Linked DNA regions of Homo sapiens. The protein of the gene in region 1 purifies or fractionates together with the protein of each later gene. This does not show direct contact. Each region holds a gene or a part of one and is shown in the gene's direction. Other genes may lie near its edges.

Region 1 (7,107 bases):
TTGGTGAACCATGTTACATCCCCAACTGCACAGTATGACAGTTCTGGTTGTTCTGTATTCTCACCAATACTTAGCATTGTCTGATTTGTTGGGTTTTTTTTCACCCTTTGGCCATCCTGATGGTGGTATCACATTGTGATTCTAAAAATTCTCTAATGACTAATGAGGGTAAACTCCTTTTTATATGTTTTTTTCCACTTGGATATCCTCTTTTGTAAGATACCAATTCAAGGCTTTTCTTACTGATTTGTAGCAGTTCCTCATATATTCTGGATAAGAGTCCTTTGTCATATGCATCCCAAGTATGTTCTCTTCTTCTGTGGCTTATTTTCTTCATGGTTCCTGTTAATGACTAGAAACTCTTAATTTTAATGAAATCCAATCTACCACTTTTTTCTGATTAGCACTTTTTATGTCTTGTTTTAAAAGTTTTTACTTACCACAAGGTCAACAAGATATTCTCCTGTGTTTTCTTCTAAATGCTTACTTGTTTGATTTTTCACATTTGGATCCACAACCCATCTGGGATTGATTGTTATATACATTGTAAGGTAAGAGGTCAAGATTCCAGTTTTTCCATATGGATACCAATTGAACCAGTATCATTTACTGTACACTGTCACTTTTGTCATGGTAATATTTACAGGTCTATTTTGGAACTTTTTATTCTTTTCTTTTGGACTGTTTGTTTATCCCTGTGTCAAACCTACATATCAGTTTGGATAAAAGAGGCATCTTCACAGTATCCCAGTGGAAGTGATGATAGCAGACATCTTTGTTTATTTTTCCATCTTAAAGGGAAAGCTGGCCAGGTGTGGTGGCATGCGCCTGTAATCCTAGCACTTTGGGAGGCCGAGGCGGGTGGATTGCTTGAGCCCAGGAGTTCGAGACCAACCTGGGTAACATAGCAAGACCCATGTCCTTTGAAAAAGGCAGGGAAAGCTTTTAATCTTTCACTGAGAAGTATGACGTTGGATGTAGGGTTTCTGTAGGTATTCTTTCTCACAGTAAAGAACCTCCCTTCTATTCCAAGTTTGCTAAGAATTTTAATCTTGAATGGGTTTTGAATGTTATCACAGGCTTTTTCTGCATCTATTGAGGGGATCATATGATCTTTTTCCATTTTTATGTTAACGTGGTGAATTTATTGCCCTTCAGGTAGTAAACCTTCTTATATTGCTGAACTAGATCCTGTTTGGTTGTGATTTATTATACTTTTTATACATAACTAAATTTGACTTGCTGATATTTTGTTTGGGGTTTTTACATCTCTGTTGCAGAGAGAAATTATAAGATTCTTGTCAGATTTGGGTATCATGCTTATAATGAGTTGGGAAGTGCCATCATTTTCTATAATCTGTTTTCGTATGAGATTAGCCTTCTTTCTTCAAATGATGCTTGGAAAATTTGTCAATGAAGTAATGAGGTAGGTGTGTGTGTGTGTGTGTGTGTGTGTGTGTGTGTGTGTGTGTGTGTTTGGGAGCAGGAGAGGAGAATTTTCAATAATAAATTCAAGTTCTTTGATAGATATGAGTGTCCATATTTTCAATTGTGAAAACAGTTGTTCAAAGAGTAGCTGCCCTGTACTGAGACAGACGACCCAGATCCAGCAGTAACTGTGGACACGTTGACGTGGAAAGATATCTCATGCCTTCTTTTTTTTTTTTTTTTTTTTTTTTTTTGAGACGGAGTCTCACTCTGTCGCCCAGGCTGGAGTGCAGTGGCACAATCTCGGCTCACTGCAAGCTCCACCTCCCGGGTTCAAGCGATTCTCCCGCCTCAGCCTCCCGAGTAGCTGGGACTACAGGTGCACGCCACCACACCCAGCTAATTTTTGTATTTTTAGTAGAGACGGAGTTTCACCATGTTAGCCAGGCTGGTCTCCAACTCCTAGCCTCATGTGTTCCACCCGCCTCGGCCTCCCAAAGTGCTGGGATTACAGGCGTGAGCCACTGCGCCTGGCTTCTCATGCCTTCTTGTTAAAGGGATTCATTCTGACCCCTCCGCAAACACAATCACTTCAGCGTTTCAATTTCTCTTTCTTGGGTGCTCCCCCACCATTCTTACCTCCCTGTTGTTCATTCCATCCTGACCCCATTTGTCTACAGCAGGACATGCTCTGATGCTGGTGTTTCTTTTGAAGCTGCCGCCTGCAGTTCCTTTTACCTTCTTTTTAGATGTTCATGAGAGCGCAGTTTGACTATGATCCCAAAAAGGACAATCTGATCCCTTGCAAGGAGGCGGGACTGAAGTTTGCTACTGGGGACATTATCCAGATTATCAACAAGGATGACAGCAATTGGTGGCAGGGACGGGTGGAAGGCTCCTCCAAGGAGTCAGCAGGATTGATCCCTTCCCCTGAGCTGCAGGAATGGTGAGCCATTTTTGTGCAGGTGGAAGGGCCATGTGCCTGCCACAAATAACTTAGCTTCAGAAAATCTGTCATTTTGTTTGTAGTTTCTGTTTCTCAACCAAGGAGACCTCCTAGATTTCCTGGCATAATGGGTGGGGGAGGGTTAACCATGCGTTGATAAGCTGGACTGAGAGGCAACCACAGGCAAGGGAGCCCAAATAGCTCTTCATTCTTATGTGGGCCTCTTGCTTCCTTAAACGTTTTCCCCATAGTTACCAAGCACGTGACAGTGCTGGGACTGAGCCCTCCCTGGTCTCCTGTTTCCCAAGCTAGTGCGCTTCTACCAGCCATGCTGTTTCTGGGATTTCCTTGGAGTCCTGCAGAAAACAGTCGCATTTAAGTATGTGTCCTTTAGGCACATTCCTGGTACATGGAAGAAATAATTCCTGTCCCCGAGTCAGATTGCTCACTTAGTCCTGGTTACATCATAGGAATGGCAGAAAAATTCACAAAACAGTTCCAACTGATAAGACATCCAACACTGAGCCTCCCTCTGCCTGTGCAAACTTACCCCAGTGTAAAGATTACAACCATTGTGGGGTTGACACTGAATAGAAATATTAGAATATATTACATGTAGTAATACAAGTTATTGTTTTGTGAAGCAGTTGTTTTAGATATATATGTGGGGTGTGTGTATGTGTTTTGTTTATAGATGTATGTGCAATAATGGCTTGCAATGTACAGTGTATTTCTTAGAGTGAGGTAGGGTCATAAAGGTTTGAGACCTTTATGGTCTAGACCAAAGAAAGAGAGTTGTTTGTGGGTTGTGTCCAGAATGTGCTGACAGGTACTAGATGACACAGACTCAAGGAGCCAGGTCCCTGACTGAGGGCAGGGCACAGTGCAAGATGCACCAAACAGTGTATGGGGTGCTTTGCACACATTATCTCCCACTGTAATGGACACTCAGAGAGTGAAGGGGGTGCCATTAGAGACTGAGTGGCTGGGGGGGGTATGAGGGGAGGGGGAGGAAAGCTGACCCCTTGATTGTCTTTTCCTACCAGGCGAGTGGCAAGTATGGCTCAGTCAGCTCCTAGCGAAGCCCCGAGCTGCAGTCCCTTTGGGAAGAAGAAGAAGTACAAAGACAAATATCTGGCCAAGCACAGCTCGAGTAAGCTTTCTGAGCCTTCTTGCCCCAGGTTCCTGGCAGCATTCACGTGTTTCCCAGTCTCTGTAACCAGCAGAAAAGGGGAGGTGGTGCAGTGCGCAGCAGAAGGCGCATTCTACAGAAAGCATGTCATTTCTTCTGGTTTCTTTTTATTGAATCCATCTTCACAAGCTTGCTGCAGTCAGGCCAGTGGATGTAAAGGAGGACTAGTGGTGAGCCCACACCTGCTCATCACCCCACCCCTCACACAGAAGTAGATGTGGTGGGAGAGGGGAAGTGAGGCAAGAACACAGGCCAGAGGGAGAGGCCAGGGCCAGGTCATAGGGAGCTTCGTGCACCCTCCCTAGCGTTTTAAATTTTGCACTATAGACTGTGGAGCTGGTGAAGGGTTTTGAGCAGAGAATTCGCACGGTCAGCTTTCCATCTGCATTTCTCTTTTCTGAGACGTCACGTGCACACCACCAGCCAGGGAATGATCGTGGCAGTCTTGGGTTGTAGGCAGGTAAGGGGGTGGAGAGTCAGGATGACACCAGGTCTCTATCTTGAGCAGCTGGGTCAATAGCACCACCATCTTCTAAGATAAGGGACATTCAGGCAGAACCGAGATAGCATTGGCATTCTTCAGCTCTAAGTGCCAAGGGAACATCTGATACTGAAACTATGGAGAAGAGATGAGGACAGGAGACAAGAAAAGTTGGCTCAGAGAGATAGGGCAAGGAGGAAGAGAGGGTGCAAAAGTTAGATAAACTCCCTTGCTCAAAATTCCCTCACCACACTAAAAATACAGTCCAAAGTCCTTCCTCCACACCAACCTCCCTCGTCTCATCTCTAGTCACTTCCTCCCTGCTTGTTGAGATGTCGCGAGGCTGTTTCCCATTTCAGAGTGTGGACCACTGTTCTCCCTAGCTCTGGAAATGAACACTGCTTGGTTTTCTTTGTCTCTAGTTTTTGATCAGTTGGATGTTGTTTCCTACGAGGAAGTCGTTCGGCTCCCTGCATTCAAGAGGAAGACCCTGGTGCTGATCGGTATCTTCTCATTGCCCCATTTGCACATTTCTGTCTTTGTTTTCCTGCCTGCATCACGTGCCCACCCCCAAAAAAGGCAGTGAGGAAGAAAAGAACTGAGGTCTCTTGGGTTCTCCATATAGAGCAGGTGTAAGGAATTTTCTGAATCCTCACGTGCACCCCACCTGGGTCCACCTCACAAATGAAACTAAACCTTACAAGTTTCTCTACTATTTAGCAACGAATTATTTTTGGTTAGGTTTCATGCTGTCTGCTGGCAGTGATACGCTTTGTAAATCTCCCTTCCCCCAAGCAGTGACTCTGACCTGAAACAGAGTAAGTCCTTGCTTCAAACCCAGGTATGTAGGCTTTGCCTCTGGCGGACTGCTCACCTTCCTGTCTTTAGAGTTGACCCCAGCCCAGATGCAACCCCAACTCATGTTCACCTGTTGGCAGTTTTGAGTGCCGAGAGAGGAAAATCCGTATCTTATCCTCGCTCCTCTCCCCCCTTTCCAAAAGATGTTCTTCTCTCTCTACACAGGAGCCAGTGGGGTGGGTCGCAGCCACATTAAGAATGCCCTGCTCAGCCAGAATCCGGAGAAGTTTGTGTACCCTGTCCCATGTAAGTAGCTCTTAGGCACCTTGGAGGGGAGGTGACAGGCTGGTACCACTCGCCATCTGAAATACCATAGTGTTATTTTATTATTTTTTAAATTATTTTATTTTAAATGATTATTAAAACTAAACAAAATATGGAAAGATAAAAATTTGTGCCCACAATTCCTCCACCTAACAGAATAACTGTTTTCTTATTGTTATTCGTGCTGTTTGTCTACATAACAGAAGCTATAGTAAACATTTTGATACTGCCTTAAAAATTACTAAGTATTAAAGTTTATACATATAACTTTGTCATTTTACTTTTTAAACATTTTCTCATGTTCCTCTGCAATTTGCCTAATTCTCTTTGAGAACTATCCCACTCTTGATGTTCAGGCTGCCTCTCATTTTCATGGAATGTCTTCTAAATCAAAGCAGTGCCTAGGAAAGGCCCAAACGATCTCAACAGCAGTCCTAGATATGGAGAAGAGTAGCGCCAGTGATCAGGTGGAGAATTTGATAACTCTTCCATTCCCAGAAGTGATGCTGCATGGTATAGTTGTGTATGTTCCCAGAAAGAAATACGGTGATTCCTCACTTAATATTGTCAATAGGCTCTTCGAAGACTGTGACTTTAAGTGAAATGACATATAACAAGAACCAGTTTTTTTACTCATCAACAATACAATGAAATGAAGTTGAACTAAACCATGTTAGTCAACGACCAGCTGCATGTGATTTCACTTAAAGTCACATTTTCTAAGAACCTACTGATAATAATATTAAGTGAGGAATTACTGTACTGCTAAGCAAAATAGAAAACCAGATTCTAAACCTCATATTACTATTTTTTAATTCTTTCTTCATTTTGCTTTTTTACACATGGATCATTGAGAGTTGTCTCGTTGCTGGAGGGACATAAGAGTTATTCCAGTGTCACATTAGGAGCAGAAAGAGATGGCCCCAGGAGTGAGTGGGGAAGCAGAAATAACCAGTACAGGCTCCTCCTTCAAGAGAATCACATGTGGTTGTAGATTGAGGGGAAGGGGCCAGTTGAGAGACAAGTGTGATCCGGAAGGCAAAGGAGACAGTCAATGGAAGATGGAAAGAGGGGAGGTTGGGAGGATTGTGTTTCAAGCTACAATATCTGGAGCATATTTTACTGATTAGACAATTTATATGAGTAATAGAAAATAGTCCAACTTTTAACAACATGAGCTGAAACTAAACCAAAGTACTCTTCTTTCCAAGTCATGAAAAGGAAACCTTAAATATATTTCCAAGAAATCCTGACCATAGTCTGTAGATCTGTTTTTAAAATATTTTCCGCTATCTTCATTTCTAAGTTTCAATATTCCTAGATTTGGTAGTTTGAGAGATGTAACTTCATTTAGGGAAAATGATAATAGGAATTTTCTATGTTAGGCTTTGCCCCTTAAAAATTAAATGTGTCCTGGGCAGATGGAGGGATTTCCTGGTGTGCATCACTTTCTAGCATCAGCTCTTCAGGAGCCCACGGGAGGAACCCCTGTATTAAAGTCAATGCACCAAAGGCAGCTAGGGTTTCCATACAGACACCATGGTCCAAGCCCTCATGAAAGGGTGAGGACCTGGAGTTTGTCGGGGATTTGGGTTCTTGTACACAGATACAACACGGCCGCCAAGGAAGAGTGAGGAAGATGGGAAGGAGTACCACTTTATCTCAACGGAGGAGATGACGAGGAACATCTCTGCCAATGAGTTCTTGGAGTTTGGCAGCTACCAAGGCAACATGTTTGGCACCAAATTTGAAACAGTGCACCAGATCCATAAGCAGAACAAGATTGCCATCCTTGACATTGAGCCCCAGGTGGGTAGGCATGGAAGGGCAGGGACAGATGGGCTCAGCCACACAAGGGATGGCGAAGACAGTGCTCCTTGGGAATCTTCTGGGGGCTCAGGATTGCTTCAGCCTTTTAATGGGGTCAGCCTGGAACAA
Region 2 (7,107 bases), on another chromosome or scaffold:
GAAGTCCAAGCGGGCCCTGGAGACCCAGATGGAGGAGATGAAGACGCAGCTGGAAGAGCTGGAGGACGAGCTGCAAGCCACGGAGGACGCCAAACTGCGGCTGGAAGTCAACATGCAGGCGCTCAAGGGCCAGTTCGAAAGGGATCTCCAAGCCCGGGACGAGCAGAATGAGGAGAAGAGGAGGCAACTGCAGAGACAGGTGCGTGCTGCCGGGGAGGCCAGCAGAGGGAGGTCGGGTGGCCTTTTTCATTCCTATCACCACTCTCATGGTTGGTGTGGAAACTTCGTTTTCTTTATTTTTTTTTGAAACAGAGTCTCGCTCTGTCGCCCAGGCTGGAGTGCAGTGGCGTAATCTCAGCTCACTGCAACCTCCACCTCCTGCCTCAGCCTCCCGAGTAGCTTGGATTACAGGCGCATGCCACCATACCTAGCTAATTTTTTTTTTTTTTTCAGTGGAGACAAGGTTTCACCATGTTGGCCAGGCTGGTCTTGAACTCCTGGCCTCAAGTGATCCATTCTCCTGTTGGCCTCCCAAAGTGCTGGGATTACAGACATGAGCCACCCACGCCCGGCGTGATTCCGTTTTCTCATCTGCAACTGGGGATGAGATGCCCACCTCACAAGGGGGCTGTGCTGGGGAAGGGGTGCAGTGATGTGCTGCCTAGGTGAGCCAAAGGACCTCCCAGGGGCAAGTGGGGCAGCACACATCTCTATTCCTCGCCCAGCTTCACGAGTATGAGACGGAACTGGAAGACGAGCGAAAGCAACGTGCCCTGGCAGCTGCAGCAAAGAAGAAGCTGGAAGGGGACCTGAAAGACCTGGAGCTTCAGGCCGACTCTGCCATCAAGGGGAGGGAGGAAGCCATCAAGCAGCTACGCAAACTGCAGGTGGGTGACACTAGGAGCTTGGGGCATGGGTGGAGGGAGGGCACAGTTCCCCTCAGGCCACCGAAGTCAGCAGAGCGGGCTCCAGGAAGCAAGCCTGCACCTGCCATTGGTGTGGGTTCAGCTGGGGTTTTTCTGGAACCATTCAGGATTTGGTGGCTGTCTCCTGCCCTGGGTAGGGCAGCATTATTAGGTATTTGGCCACTGCCCTCAGATCACATCAGGGGCTCAGCTTCTCAGGCAGGTCTGTGGAGCCCACCCAGAATGGTGCTCCCAGCGCACCACCAGCCACCTGGAACTGAGAGCCATGCTCGTGCAATGGGAACTTCTTTGTGGTCAACTGCAGAAAATCCAAGGGGTGGGTGTGCAAAGCTGAACTGGGCAGCAGAACTTGGGGGAGTAAGGACATCTGAGCTTGTCCTCCCTGTTGACTCATGCAGGCTCAGATGAAGGACTTTCAAAGAGAGCTGGAAGATGCCCGTGCCTCCAGAGATGAGATCTTTGCCACAGCCAAAGAGAATGAGAAGAAAGCCAAGAGCTTGGAAGCAGACCTCATGCAGCTACAAGAGGTAAAGCCTCGCCTTGCTAGGAGAGCCTCAGATGCGGGTGTCACGGTAGCACCCCTTGGCAGCTCCAGTCTGTGCATTCCCAGATTTCATTTCGTCCTCCTCTGGGGTCCACCTGTCTAGAAAGACACACGCTTCCCTCCTCTATGTATTCACGGGGCCTCCCCTGAGCTCAGAGGAAGAACATGTACTTTCAAGGGTGGCTGAGTTGTCAGGGTGGACTCTTGGTGGGGCTTGGCCTTTCCCTGGCAGACAACAGCCTTCCTCCCTCCCACCTAGGACCTCGCCGCCGCTGAGAGGGCTCGCAAACAAGCGGACCTCGAGAAGGAGGAACTGGCAGAGGAGCTGGCCAGTAGCCTGTCGGGAAGGTAGGAAACTGAATGGAGGAAGAGGGCTCTGAAGCAGAGGATGGGGGGACAGGCAGCATCCTCGACCCCCATTTTATTTTTTAAATTTTTTCGAGACAGAGTTTCATTCTGTCACCCAGGCTGGAGGGCAGTGGCACAATCTTGGCTCACTGCAACCTCCACCTCCCAGGTTCAAGCAATTCTCCTGCCTCAGCCTTCTGAGTAGCTGAGACTACAGGTGTGTACCACCATGCCTGGCTAATTTTTATATTTTTAGTAGAGGTGGGGTTTCACCATGTTGGCCAGGCTAGTCTTGAACTCCTGACCTTAGGTGATCCTCCTACCTTGGCCTCCCAAAGTGCTGTGATTACAGGTGTGAGCCACCGTGCCTGGCCCTGGACCCCCATTTCAATGCTGCTGCTGACGAAGCGTCCTCTGAGATTGGGGACAGACCCATGGTGGTTAGGTTTTCCGTCAGCGCTTTCATGCCTGTTTGGGGGTGTGGCTGCTTTCATTCATTCCCAATAAGTAGCTGTGTGGGGAGAAGGGGAGGCCAGGAAGAGTCAGGGAGGAGTGTGCTGGTCCCCATCCCAATCCCAGCTTTGCTGACACGGACCCGGCCTGAGTCCCGGCTGTCCACTTCCTGGCTGTGTAACTACAGATGAGTCTTCTAATCTTCTCCAAGCCTCAGTTTCACCCATTAGATGATGAGGGCAATACCCCTGAGGCATGACTCCAAGGAGGGGGCATCTTTTAAGGCGGGGGAGGGTAGAGGCCCCCACCATGGCCGCCCTTCCCCCAGGAACGCACTCCAGGACGAGAAGCGCCGCCTGGAGGCCCGGATCGCCCAGCTGGAGGAGGAGCTGGAGGAGGAGCAGGGCAACATGGAGGCCATGAGCGACCGGGTCCGCAAAGCCACACAGCAGGTGAGGGCCGCCTGGACACCACAGTCACGCTGCCTACTGTCTCTCCTGCAGCAGGATCCTGCACCAGTCAACACACGCGTGGCGGCTTCCTGTGTGCAGGCCCTGGATTGAGGGACAAGAGGGTGGTGGGGCCTGAGAGTAGAGATCCAGGGCCCTTACACCAGTGCCCAGGCTGCTGTCTTCAGAATACTCCTCTCCACGCTGCAGTGTCTCATTTTCCAGCCACGGCGTGGCTGGCTCCCCGTACCTCACGGCCATCCCTGGAGTCCGGGCCTTGGGATGCTCTTTCATTGCGTTTTCCCCTAGCTGAAGCTCTGACCTTATCCAGTGAGCCCTTGGTGATGTCACTGAGCACTAGTTCCATGGTGGGCACTAGGGACCATCCAGTAACCTGCAGCCCCTTGTGGTGTAGGGTGAACAGGCATCATTCTCCAGGCGACTCCAGGACAGAGAAAGCAAGGGACAAGTCACTCGCTCAGCCTGGGTGGCACTGACACTTGTGGAAGCACCTCTTTTTTTTGGAGACAGGGTCTCTCTGTGGCCCAGGCTGGAGTGCAGTGGCGCAATCTTGGCTCACTGCAACCTCTGCCTCCCAAGTTCAAGGGATTCTCCTGCTTCAACCTCCCAAGTAGCTGGGACTACAGGCACGTGCCACCACTGCCCGGCTAATTTTTGTATTTTTAATAGAGACGGGGTTTCACCATGTTGGCCAGGCAGGTCTCGAACTCCTGAGCTCAAGTGATTTACCTGCCTCTGCTTCCAAAAGTGCTGGGATTACAGGCGTGCGCCACCACGCCCGGCCTGGAAGAAGCTCTTGAGTGGAGTTTTACAGGATGAAGGAGAGGACAGGGTGCCCGGGATCAAGGGACTCGTGCAGAGGCCAAACAAGGCAGGAAGAGGCATGGTCTCAGTGCGCTCTCTTGGGCTTCCCTGAGTCCGCCTCATGGCCTTCACTCTCCTCCCCAGGCCGAGCAGCTCAGCAACGAGCTGGCCACAGAGCGCAGCACGGCCCAGAAGAATGAGAGTGCCCGGCAGCAGCTCGAGCGGCAGAACAAGGAGCTCCGGAGCAAGCTCCACGAGATGGAGGGGGCCGTCAAGTCCAAGTTCAAGTCCACCATCGCGGCGCTGGAGGCCAAGATTGCACAGCTGGAGGAGCAGGTCGAGCAGGAGGCCAGGTATGCGGGTGTGGAGTTCCGAACCCAGTTTGCAGGGGGGTGATGGACAGCAGGAGTCATAGTGAAGTCAGGGAACCTCTTCCAGCATCAGTTCTGGCTTGTAAGAAGCAAGCTCTGTGATGCCTACAGTGCAGGTATGTTGTGAGAACTGAACGTAAACACAGCAAAGTGCCCTGCTGGTTCCTGGCCTAGGGCAAGCACCTAAAGTGTGAGCTGCTCTTAGCATCTCCATGGTCCTCCTGACATTAACCTGCCTTCCCAGCAGTACATATGACTTTTCCCAGCCTCTGCAGGGATAGCATGCTGACAGATCAAAAATCCAACCAGGCTGGACGTGGTGGCTCACGCCTGTAATCCCAGCAATTTGGGAGGCTGAGGCAGGTGGATCACTTGAGGTCAGGAGTTTGAGACCGGCCTGGCCAACATGGTGAAACCCTGTCTGTACCAAAAATTAGCCGAGTGTGGTGGCACATGCCTATTATCTCAGCTACTCAGGAGACTGAGGCAGGAGAATCACTCCAACGTGACACGTGGAGGTTGCAGTGAGCCGAGATTGTGCCACTGCACTGCAGCCTGGGTGACACAGTGGGACCCTTCCACACACATACACACACACAAAAAAAACCCCAAAAAACAAAAGTCCAACCGGCAGCCCATTTGGTACACACACTGGAAGCCTTCTTAATTATGGGTCGAATGAGGCATATGATCACAGCACATTTCTTACCATTGGATTCTAAGGATTCTCACCCATTCTCTTCTAGTAGCTTTTTCAGTAATTCGCACGCCCTGCAATGCACCCATTTAAAGTGTATAATTCAAGGGCTATTCATATATTCACAAACATGTAAAAACGATCACCACAGTCATTTTGAGAACATTTTCATCGGCTCAAACAGAAACCCCAGGCCATATGTGGTATTTCATGCCCATAATCCCGGCACTTTGGGAGGCTGAGGTAGGTGGGAGCAGCACTTGAGTCCAGGAGTTCGAGACCAGTCTGGGCAGCATAGCAAGACTTTTTTATTTTTATTTTTTTGAGACATAGTCTCACTCTGTTTCCCAGGCTGGTGTGCAGTGGTGCGATCTCAGCTCACTGCAACCTCCGCCTCACCCTCCCAAGTAGCTGGGACTACAGGTGCACACCACTGTACCCAGCTTGTAATTGTATTTTTTAGTAGGGATGGGGTTTCACCATGTTGGCCAGGCTGGTCTCGAACTCCTGACCACAGGTGATCTGCCCACCTCGGCCTCCCAGAGTACTGGGATTACAGGCATGAGCCACCACGCCTGGCCAGAGACTCCGTTTCTATGAAAAACTTTTAAAAGTCTGAGCATGCTGGTGTACGCCTGTAGTCCCAGCTACTTGGGAGGCTGAGGTGGGAGGATTGCTTGAGCCAGGAGTTCAAGGCTGCAGTGAACTATGAACTAGGGTGAAGAGCAGGCATTGGAGCACCACTGCACTCCAACCTGGGTCACACAGCAAGACCTTGCCTCCTCCCCGCAAAAAAAATAGAAACCCCATGCCCTGTAACCACTCCCTTCAGTCCCTGGCAACCATAATCTACTTTCTGTCTCTATGAATTTATCTATTCTGGACACTTGATATCAACGGAATCACACACTATGTTGTCTGCTATGTGTCTTCTTTCACTTGGCAAGAATTCCAGGCTCATCCATGCTGTGGCATGCATTGATACTTTATTCCTTTTCATGGCTGAATACTATTCCACCATCTGACTGATTCTTGAGAGGAGTCCAGATACGGGGCTCAGGAAAGCACTCAAGATGCCACCTCCAGGTGACACACCAGCTACAAGGGGTGCCACCCTCCGCTGAAACCACCTGTTTTCCTTGCTGTTTGCAGAGAGAAACAGGCGGCCACCAAGTCGCTGAAGCAGAAAGACAAGAAGCTGAAGGAAATCTTGCTGCAGGTGGAGGACGAGCGCAAGATGGCCGAGCAGTACAAGGAGCAGGTAGCCCCTGCCACCCAGCCTCCCTCGAGCCCCCAGCCCCCAGCCGGCCTCCCCTAACCACCCCTCCAACTCTCCGCGACAGGCAGAGAAAGGCAATGCCAGGGTCAAGCAGCTCAAGAGGCAGCTGGAGGAGGCAGAGGAGGAGTCCCAGCGCATCAACGCCAACCGCAGGAAGCTGCAGCGGGAGCTGGATGAGGCCACGGAGAGCAACGAGGCCATGGGCCGCGAGGTGAACGCACTCAAGAGCAAGCTCAGGTGAGGAGCCCGTGGCCCGGGAGGACCCCGTCTCTCAGGCCAGAGAAAAGCACTGGGGGCTCGGGCTCCTTTCGGCCTGCAAATGCCCCTTGTGCCCACAGCCGCCACTCCCTTCTGTGGTTTATTCCTGCTTCTCCTTAATCACTAAGCTTAGTGTGGGCCAGGCACTGAGATCAGACCCGGGCCCTGCCTTGCCTGGTAGCAGCTAACCTTCTAGATCCTTTAACGATCGACCGTCTCCCATCCGGTCCTCCGGCTGAGGAGGAGGAAGAGGCTATCCCCACTGTCTCCTCCAGCCCCTCCTTCATTGCATCACTGAGTCTTCACGACATCCATTGAAGCTGCAACACCACCCCCCGCCACTTCACCTCCTTCCTGACATGCTCTGCTCCTCCTTTCTCCCCCTCAGCACTGCTGCCATCTGGGCTGCATTATTCTCGGGTATGGGGGCTGTCCGACATTCCCCATCAGAAGGAAAAAGATCCCTGAAAAGTAGCAGGTGCTTACATTTCTGGCCTCTACCCACCGGCTGCAGTAGTCCCCCACCACCCTGCAATGTGACAACCAAAAATGTCTCTAGATGTTGCCAGAAGTCCTCTAGAGATGGGAGGGTACGACTGCCACCCCGCTGAGAATTCCTGCTGTCACTGGAGTGGGGGCTGTTTTCTCTCCCATGCCTCTGGTACCTTGGGGGTCCCCCCTGCTCCCAAGGGCTGCTTCCACCACCCTGTCCATCCATCCCGATTGGCTCCCAGGAGGTTTTAGCTCCGGGCTTCCTGTCTCCCACACCACTCCTCACAGTTCTCCATGATTTCAACATCCAGGTGGGCGACGCAGCCTCTCGGTTCCTTGACCCTCTGGGTGATCCTGCTGCTTCTACCGGGCCAACCAGTACTCCTAGGAGCCCTCACAATTTGACCCTCAGGCATCCCATTGTCTGCCTGGTGCCACCTTTCTTTGGCTCTGTCCCCAACGGGG
Region 3 (6,925 bases), on another chromosome or scaffold:
ACATGTACTATTTCTTGCTACCTGTGAAAAGGTATATTTTAAAGAATGTATAACCAACAGTCCATTTACTTTTTATTAGTATGTAGAGGATTTGTATCTAATTCATGAATGTAGTTTTACAGTAGTTTGTCATTGTAAATGGAGCAAAGTACATTATCTTCTAAAATGTACATTATGTAAGAATTGTAAATATACTTAAGTAATTTGTATGCCAAAAAATTACAATAAGTCAATAAAGATCTCACCTCTGGCTTAGTTCTTTCATGGTGATTTACATTTTCTTGTGAAATACACTGTGAACATATCTGTCAACAGCAGTTATTTTTAAGGTACTATTATTTTTAAGGTATTTCTTCCCAGCCCTTTCAAATCCACATTCATCCTATTTGCTGATTACTTCAATCAAGAAATCCATTTGGATCTTTTAAGTATATAATTCTCTTTGTTCACAGAGCTGTTATAGCCCCTAATTCATTGGCAAAAAGATAAAAGGTTTTTTTTGGGGGGTGGGGGGAGGGGCTTGCTCTAAGTTTTTTCCATTATGATTGACATTAATGTTCCTAATCTATGCAGCACATTCCCATTTTATCCTTTTAGTAAACAGACACACACACGTTTGTCAGTGAATTGGGACTGAAGGAATGGAAGGTTGAAAAAACCAAACTGGAAGTGTATCACCTGCATTTGCTTTAAAAAAAAAAAAGCTAATTGAAAGCAGACACATAAACTTTTCAATATAACTTGCTTTATTCAGCTTCATTTCATTTTCAGAATAGTTCTGTGGAGAACCCACATCAATAGTCTATAAATATTTTAAGTGAAAACAGTTTAATTTTTCAATTATTGCAAACACAAAGCTTTTTGCTTGTGGAGAAATGTTAAGAAGAAGCAAGAGAATCATCCACAATTCCATTATCTTGTGCTGTCCAAAATGGAACTCACTAGCTACATGTGGCTACTTAATTGGAATTAGACAAAGAGTTCATTTCCTCAGTCGTACTGCTACATTTTAAGAACTTTATAGCCCCATGTGGCTAGTGACTATTGTTTTGAACAGGGGAGATTGTAGAATATATACATTGTCACAGGAAGTTCTACTGGATAGCACTGAGGGAGATACTGTTACTTTTTTGTGTATACCCTTCTAGACCTTTGGGTGTGTGTATTCATACATTTATATAATGGGATCATACAGTTACCCACTTCTTTCACTTAATAGATGGGGAGAACTTTATGGGAAATTTCAAGCATGTACAGGTAGAGAAAATCAATAGCTATAAGCTCATGGCTTATATTTGTTCTCCTACCCATTTTTCCCCTTTCCTGGACTTTTTGGAACCAGATCCTAGACCTTTCACCAGCAAATCATTCCGTATGTACATCTAAAAGTTGAGGACTTTAAAAAATCGTAACACTTCTTAAACTGTAAAACTACATAATCAATATTCAAATTGGTTTCTCAAATACGATTTTTAAAATAGATCGTGCAAATCAGAATTCACATAAGTTCCATACGTTGCAGTTGGTGAATATGTTTCTTAGTCTCTGTAGGTTTTTTTTTCCATTTGTTACCATTACTATTTTTTTTTTGGAATTGGGGTCTCGCACTGTCATCCAGGCTGGAGTCCTGTGGCGATCGTAGCTCACTGCAGCCTTGGACCCCTGAGCTCAAGTGATCCTCCCACCTCAGTCTCCCACATAGCTTGGAGTACGGGTATGAGCCACCTCACCCATTTGTTAGTTTTTTAAATTTCCACCTGCAGTTTGTTGAAAACATCACTTTTAATGACTGCATTATTTTAGCTTTAACCACTTTATTGATGACCATTTGATTCTGATTTTTTGCCATCATGAACCTAGCTTTGCTTTATTTTTATGTTTGTTTTTTGAGACAGGGTCTCGCTCTCTTTCGCCAGGCTAGAGTACAGAGGCACAATCTCGGCTCACTGCATCCTCTGCCTCCTAGGTTCAAGCGATTCTCTTGCCTCAGCCTCTCGAGTAGCTGGAATTGCAGGTGTCCGCCACCACACTGCCTACTTTTTTTTTTTTTTTGAGACAGGGTTTTGCTCTTGTCGCCCAGGCTGGAGTGCAGTGTTATGATCTCGGCTCACTGCATCCTCTGCCTCCTAGGTTCAAGCGATTCTCTTGCCTCAGCCTCTCGAGTAGCTGGAATTGCAGGTGTCCGCCACCACACTGCCTACTTTTTTTTTTTTTTTGAGACAGAGTTTTGCTCTTGTCGCCCAGGCTGGAGTGCAGTGTTATGATCTCGGCTCACTGCAACCTCCACCTCCCAGGTTCAAGCGATTCTTCTGCCTCAGCCTCCTGAGTAGCTGGGATTACAGGCGCCCGCCACCATGTCTGGCTAATTTTTTGTATTTTTAGTAGAGACGGGGTTTCGCCATGTTGGGCAGGCTGGTCTCGAACTCCTGGCCTAAGGTGATCTGCCCTCCTCGGCCTCCCAAAGTGCTAGGATTACAGGCGTGAGCCACCATTCCCGGCCTAAGCCACCATGCTTGGCCTTGCTTTATTCTTATGGTTAAATATTTTGAACATTCTTAAATTATTAGGAAGATTTTCTAGAAATAAAAATGCTGTTTCAATGGTTGAGTATATTTTTGAGACTCATCCAATGTGGTAGGCACCGTGTTAGGTACTGGGTATATTGTGGTTAATAAAAAACAAATGTATATTCTGTTCTCTTGGAGTCACGTGTTCTTGCAATGAAGAAAGATGAGACTAGGGTAGTACATATATTTAGGTGGCCCTCACAGAATTATTGAGGATGGCACTTAGCCCAGACACTGGATAGGAGGTATTTAGAGATCATTTGTGTAGGTAGTGACATGTAAGCCAAGGTCTGAAGCAGAGAGGTTGGATAATCCATGCAACCTTACAATGTGGAAATAACAGGAAAAACCGTTTACCTAATCTCTGGTCAGAAATCAGAGAACTTGGCCAAAGAACTGAAGGGTTACTGTACTTACTCAAGTTCTTTGTCTATTTAGACAGCATGCACAGCACTTGCACGTGTTTACTTAAAAACTACTGGTATAGCCTCAATTCTTAGAAGACTGAAGTTAGTACGTTTTTATCTAGTTAGCAGTGTGCAACTGCCTAGGGTCAAAATTGCTACTGGCTAGCTGTGTGACTTTGGGCACGTGACCTCGGCGTGCAAAACTCCCTGGTACCCTCAAGGAGGCTCTTGATAAAGTGTTAAAAGTCTGTTTATAAAACAAAAGTGGATGAATGTCGCCCTCCAGGGCTTTGCGGTGCTGGGGCTCGGGGAGCAGCCTCGCAGGTTCGTGCGGGCGGCGGGGGCCCCCTGCTGGCCACATCCTCCAGCCTCCCTCCGCTCGGCCTCCGGCGCGACGTGCGGCCCGGGCCATTTCCTCCCAGGGCGGGGGAAAAGGGAGGAGCTGCCGGTTTAAATTGCCTAGCTGCAGCTCGTGTGCAGGGAGAGGCCGAGACGGCTTAAAGCCTCCAAGAAATTGAGGGAAAAAAGGTGCAGAGATTAAAGTTTTACCTCTTGGTGCCTCCAGCTTCGCTTTTGGCTAACCTAAGTTCCTCTGTTCGGGCGCCTCCATTCCCTTCAACACTCAGCTTGGATATCCTCTGGGGCTCGCCGCGTAGGGCGCCATTTCTCAGCCGGGACAGCGGGCCAGCCCTCAGCACGCTGGAGTCCGGAATCCCCCCCTCCCAACGCCGGGCGCCGGATCCCACCCTAACCCCTCCTCTAATACCCTTGGAACCTAGGACCCAGCGGTTTCGGCACGCCCGGCCCCGCCCCTCCGCGCACCGGCGCCCGCGATTGGCTCCAGGCGGCGCGGCCCCGCCCCTTTCATGGCCGCCGCCTGGCGCCGGGGCTAAGTGGCCGCCGGCGTCCGGGTACCCGAGGGCTCTCCCGCGTTGCTGGCACCGCTGGCGCCGCGGTCTCGTAGCGCATGGGCCTCCTCCGAGGCGGGCTCCCATGCGCTCGGGCCATGGCGCGCCTGGGCGCTGTGCGCTCCCACTACTGCGCCCTGCTGCTGGCCGCGGCGCTGGCCGTCTGCGCCTTCTACTACCTCGGCTCAGGCCGGGAGACCTTCTCCAGCGCCACCAAGAGGCTGAAGGAGGCCCGCGCCGGGGCTCCCGCCGCGCCCTCGCCGCCCGCGCTGGAGCTAGCGCGGGGCTCCGTGGCGCCAGCCCCCGGCGCGAAGGCCAAGAGCTTGGAGGGCGGCGGTGCCGGGCCGGTGGACTACCACCTGCTGATGATGTTCACCAAGGCGGAGCACAATGCCGCGCTGCAGGCCAAGGCCCGCGTCGCGCTGCGCTCACTGCTGCGCCTCGCCAAGTTCGAGGCGCACGAGGTGCTTAACCTTCACTTCGTGAGCGAGGAGGCCAGCCGCGAGGTGGCCAAGGGCCTGCTGCGGGAGCTCCTGCCGCCCGCCGCTGGCTTCAAGTGCAAGGTGAGCGGGCCGCGGCTGGGGGCTCCCGGTGGGTGGCCCACCCCATCCTAGGCGAGGTCAGTTTGCGCTCCCGGAGGGGATCCGGGGAACTAGCGGGTAGGATCTTCCCTGAGCTGCCCGCTTGCAATGTAGTGTTCACAACCTGCGGGAGGGCTCGTTCGGGGGCGTGTCCGGGAGCCAGACGCCCTCAGCTGGTGCTGAGGAGTGGAGCTGCGTTTTTAATGACCGCCTCGTTTTCCTCTCCCCCAGTTAAGCGCAGCCCCCAGGAGAGTCCGCGCGCCCCCATTTTGCTAACGTTGCAGGGTTCAGCACTGCCTTCAGAGTCTGCACCTCTGTTTATGTTCCTCAGTTTTTGACTTCTGAGGATGGGACTGGTCACCAGTAGTCATCCTGAGCAACTGGAGAGGGCCTTGGTGAGGCCTCTGGAAGTGTTGAAGTTGCAGTGACACTTCTCATTGCTCTTAAGGTATTTCAGTAGGATCTGGTCAAACTCATTGTGAACCATCTTATCTCCTCTCTGTGTCCCTTTTTCCCCTTCCTCCAAGGGTCATGAACCCATTTAGAGAAGCCTGGAGTTCCTCCGAATGAGGAAGAGAAAGCTCAAGAGGAACAGATATGATCTGGGGAGAGCACAGCTGGCCGCCTTGTCCCAGGCTGGACCAGTCTGCCTCCATGACAGCTTCCATCTCTGTTTATCATCTGTCTTCACTGCCTGGCTCTCCTTGTCTGAGATGTGTTTCTGACATAGTGTGAATTGCCTAGGTCAAATTGCTTATTTGATTTTGACCTAATAGTTGTACAGAGGGGATCCGAGGCCAGATTTTAAGGAGTAGTAGGTAATATTAAAGGGTGGAGACTGATGTTGGTTGGGGAAGCATGCTGAGACAGGAGTTGTATTATGTGAGTGACTAGGGGAGCTGTTGCCAGGATCCTACAGGCTTCGGGAGTCTCTGATAGCTCCTTGTTGCCTACGGGGTGAAGTCCCAGTTTATTGGTAGGGCTGTTGTGTTGTGAGCCTGGTCCACTTCTCTGGCTTCACCTCTCCTCCTTTGTCTACATGCACCTCATACCTTAGCTATGTAGGGAGTGGGCCTTATACATGCTGTACTGTCTGCCCACAGTGTCCTCTTGGGCCCTTGGCCATTCTTTACTCAGCTTTCACCTCTCCTGAGAAAGTCCCTAGACCCTGGGACCTCTGAAGGTCCTCGCTGGAGGAGGAGCCTGGCAACCTGTCCCAGGTGATCCTAATGACCCTAATATTTGAGAAACTTTGCACTAGTTCACGGTAGAAAACTGAGGGCCCTTGGCCATAGGGTCAGTCTGGGCAGATCTTGGGATTTGACCAGGTCTCCAAACACCGCCTTGAAGATAGCATTGTCATCTCTTCTGGGCCTACTCTGCACCGTTGCCGGATCTCTGTCCCCTTGTCCCCAGCTCCCGCTGCAGCGCTAGCTGCACAGCCAGTGCTTTCCAGCCTACTTGCCTTTGCTTTTGTCATTCCCACTGTTGGGGTGCTCCTTCTCTCCATCTCCAAGTCTTGCCCATCTTCAGATACCATCCCCTCCTTGGAGCCAAGGAAGCGTCCCTTCTTTCCTTTTCTACTTCCCTGGTGCTGTGACTGTATCATGTCTTATCATCCATCCCTATGTACAATGCCTGGCACTCTTAGTTGGCACCAGAAATATTGGCCCAGGGGTAGATCCAGCCTCAGGGCCGAGCCCCTCCTGTCTTGGAGTAAGTGTTTCATGCTCGGACTACCCCACTTTACTGGGCCCAGTTCTGGCAGCCTCACTCAAGGCCTGGAGGCAGCTGCAAATGACCAGAGGGAACTGATACCTCCTCTGTTGAGGGGTGAGGGTTTAGTGTCTGGGGACTTCTAGCCAGATGTCAGTGATTGGATAAGGGGTTATCAGTCCTGGCATAAAATTGCTCCCGTTACTTCTTTTTTTTTTTTGTGAGATGGAGTTTCGCTCTTGTTGCCTAGGCTGGAGTGCAGTGGCACGATCTCAGCTCACTGCAACCTCTGCCTCCTGGGTTCGAGCGATTCTGCCTCAGCCTCTCGAGTAGCTGGAATTACAGGTGCCCACCACCACGCTGGCTAAATTTTTTGTTTTTTTTTTTTTGAGACAGAGTTTTGCTCTTGTCGCCCAGGCTGGAGTGCAACAGTGTGATCTCGGCTCACTGCAACCTCTGCCTCCAAGGTTCAAGTGATTCTCCTGGCCCAGCCTCCTGAGTAGCTGGGATTACAGGCGCCCGCCACCACGCCCGGCTAATTTTTTGTATTTTTAGTAGAGATGGGGTTTCATCATGTTGGCCAGGCTGGTCTCAAATTCCTGACCTCAGGTGATCCACCCACCTTGGCCTCTCAAAGTGCTGGAATTACAGGCGTGAACCACCGCGCCTGGCCTCCGTTACTTTGTTTTGTTTTGTTTTTGATAAGAATTCTTGCTATGTTGCCCAGGCTGGTCTTGAACTCCTGA

The links.
Region 2: the proteins of MPP1 (region 1) and MYH11 purify together in Homo sapiens (affinity purification with mass spectrometry; 2 studies listed by BioGRID and IntAct, with this or other methods). This does not show direct contact.
Region 3: the proteins of MPP1 (region 1) and XXYLT1 purify together in Homo sapiens (co-immunoprecipitation; 2 studies listed by BioGRID and IntAct, with this or other methods). This does not show direct contact.

What each region holds. Positions count from the first base shown.
Region 1 is NC_000023.11:154,781,471-154,788,577, reverse strand, and holds part of MPP1 (55 kDa erythrocyte membrane protein), read left to right. Parts: intron 1-2,177; coding exon 2,178-2,374; intron 2,375-3,420; coding exon 3,421-3,527; intron 3,528-4,469; coding exon 4,470-4,550; intron 4,551-5,070; coding exon 5,071-5,151; intron 5,152-6,775; coding exon 6,776-6,978; intron 6,979-7,107. UniProt on the Homo sapiens protein: Essential regulator of neutrophil polarity. Regulates neutrophil polarization by regulating AKT1 phosphorylation through a mechanism that is independent of PIK3CG activity.
Region 2 is NC_000016.10:15,713,931-15,721,037, reverse strand, and holds part of MYH11 (myosin-11), read left to right. Parts: coding exon 1-199; intron 200-725; coding exon 726-887; intron 888-1,324; coding exon 1,325-1,453; intron 1,454-1,729; coding exon 1,730-1,818; intron 1,819-2,599; coding exon 2,600-2,723; intron 2,724-3,689; coding exon 3,690-3,898; intron 3,899-5,765; coding exon 5,766-5,874; intron 5,875-5,956; coding exon 5,957-6,129; intron 6,130-7,107. UniProt on the Homo sapiens protein: Muscle contraction.
Region 3 is NC_000003.12:195,268,075-195,274,999, reverse strand, and holds the start of XXYLT1 (xyloside xylosyltransferase 1), read left to right. Parts: upstream 1-3,840; 5' UTR 3,841-3,941; coding exon 3,942-4,445; intron 4,446-6,925. UniProt on the Homo sapiens protein: Alpha-1,3-xylosyltransferase, which elongates the O-linked xylose-glucose disaccharide attached to EGF-like repeats in the extracellular domain of target proteins by catalyzing the addition of the second xylose.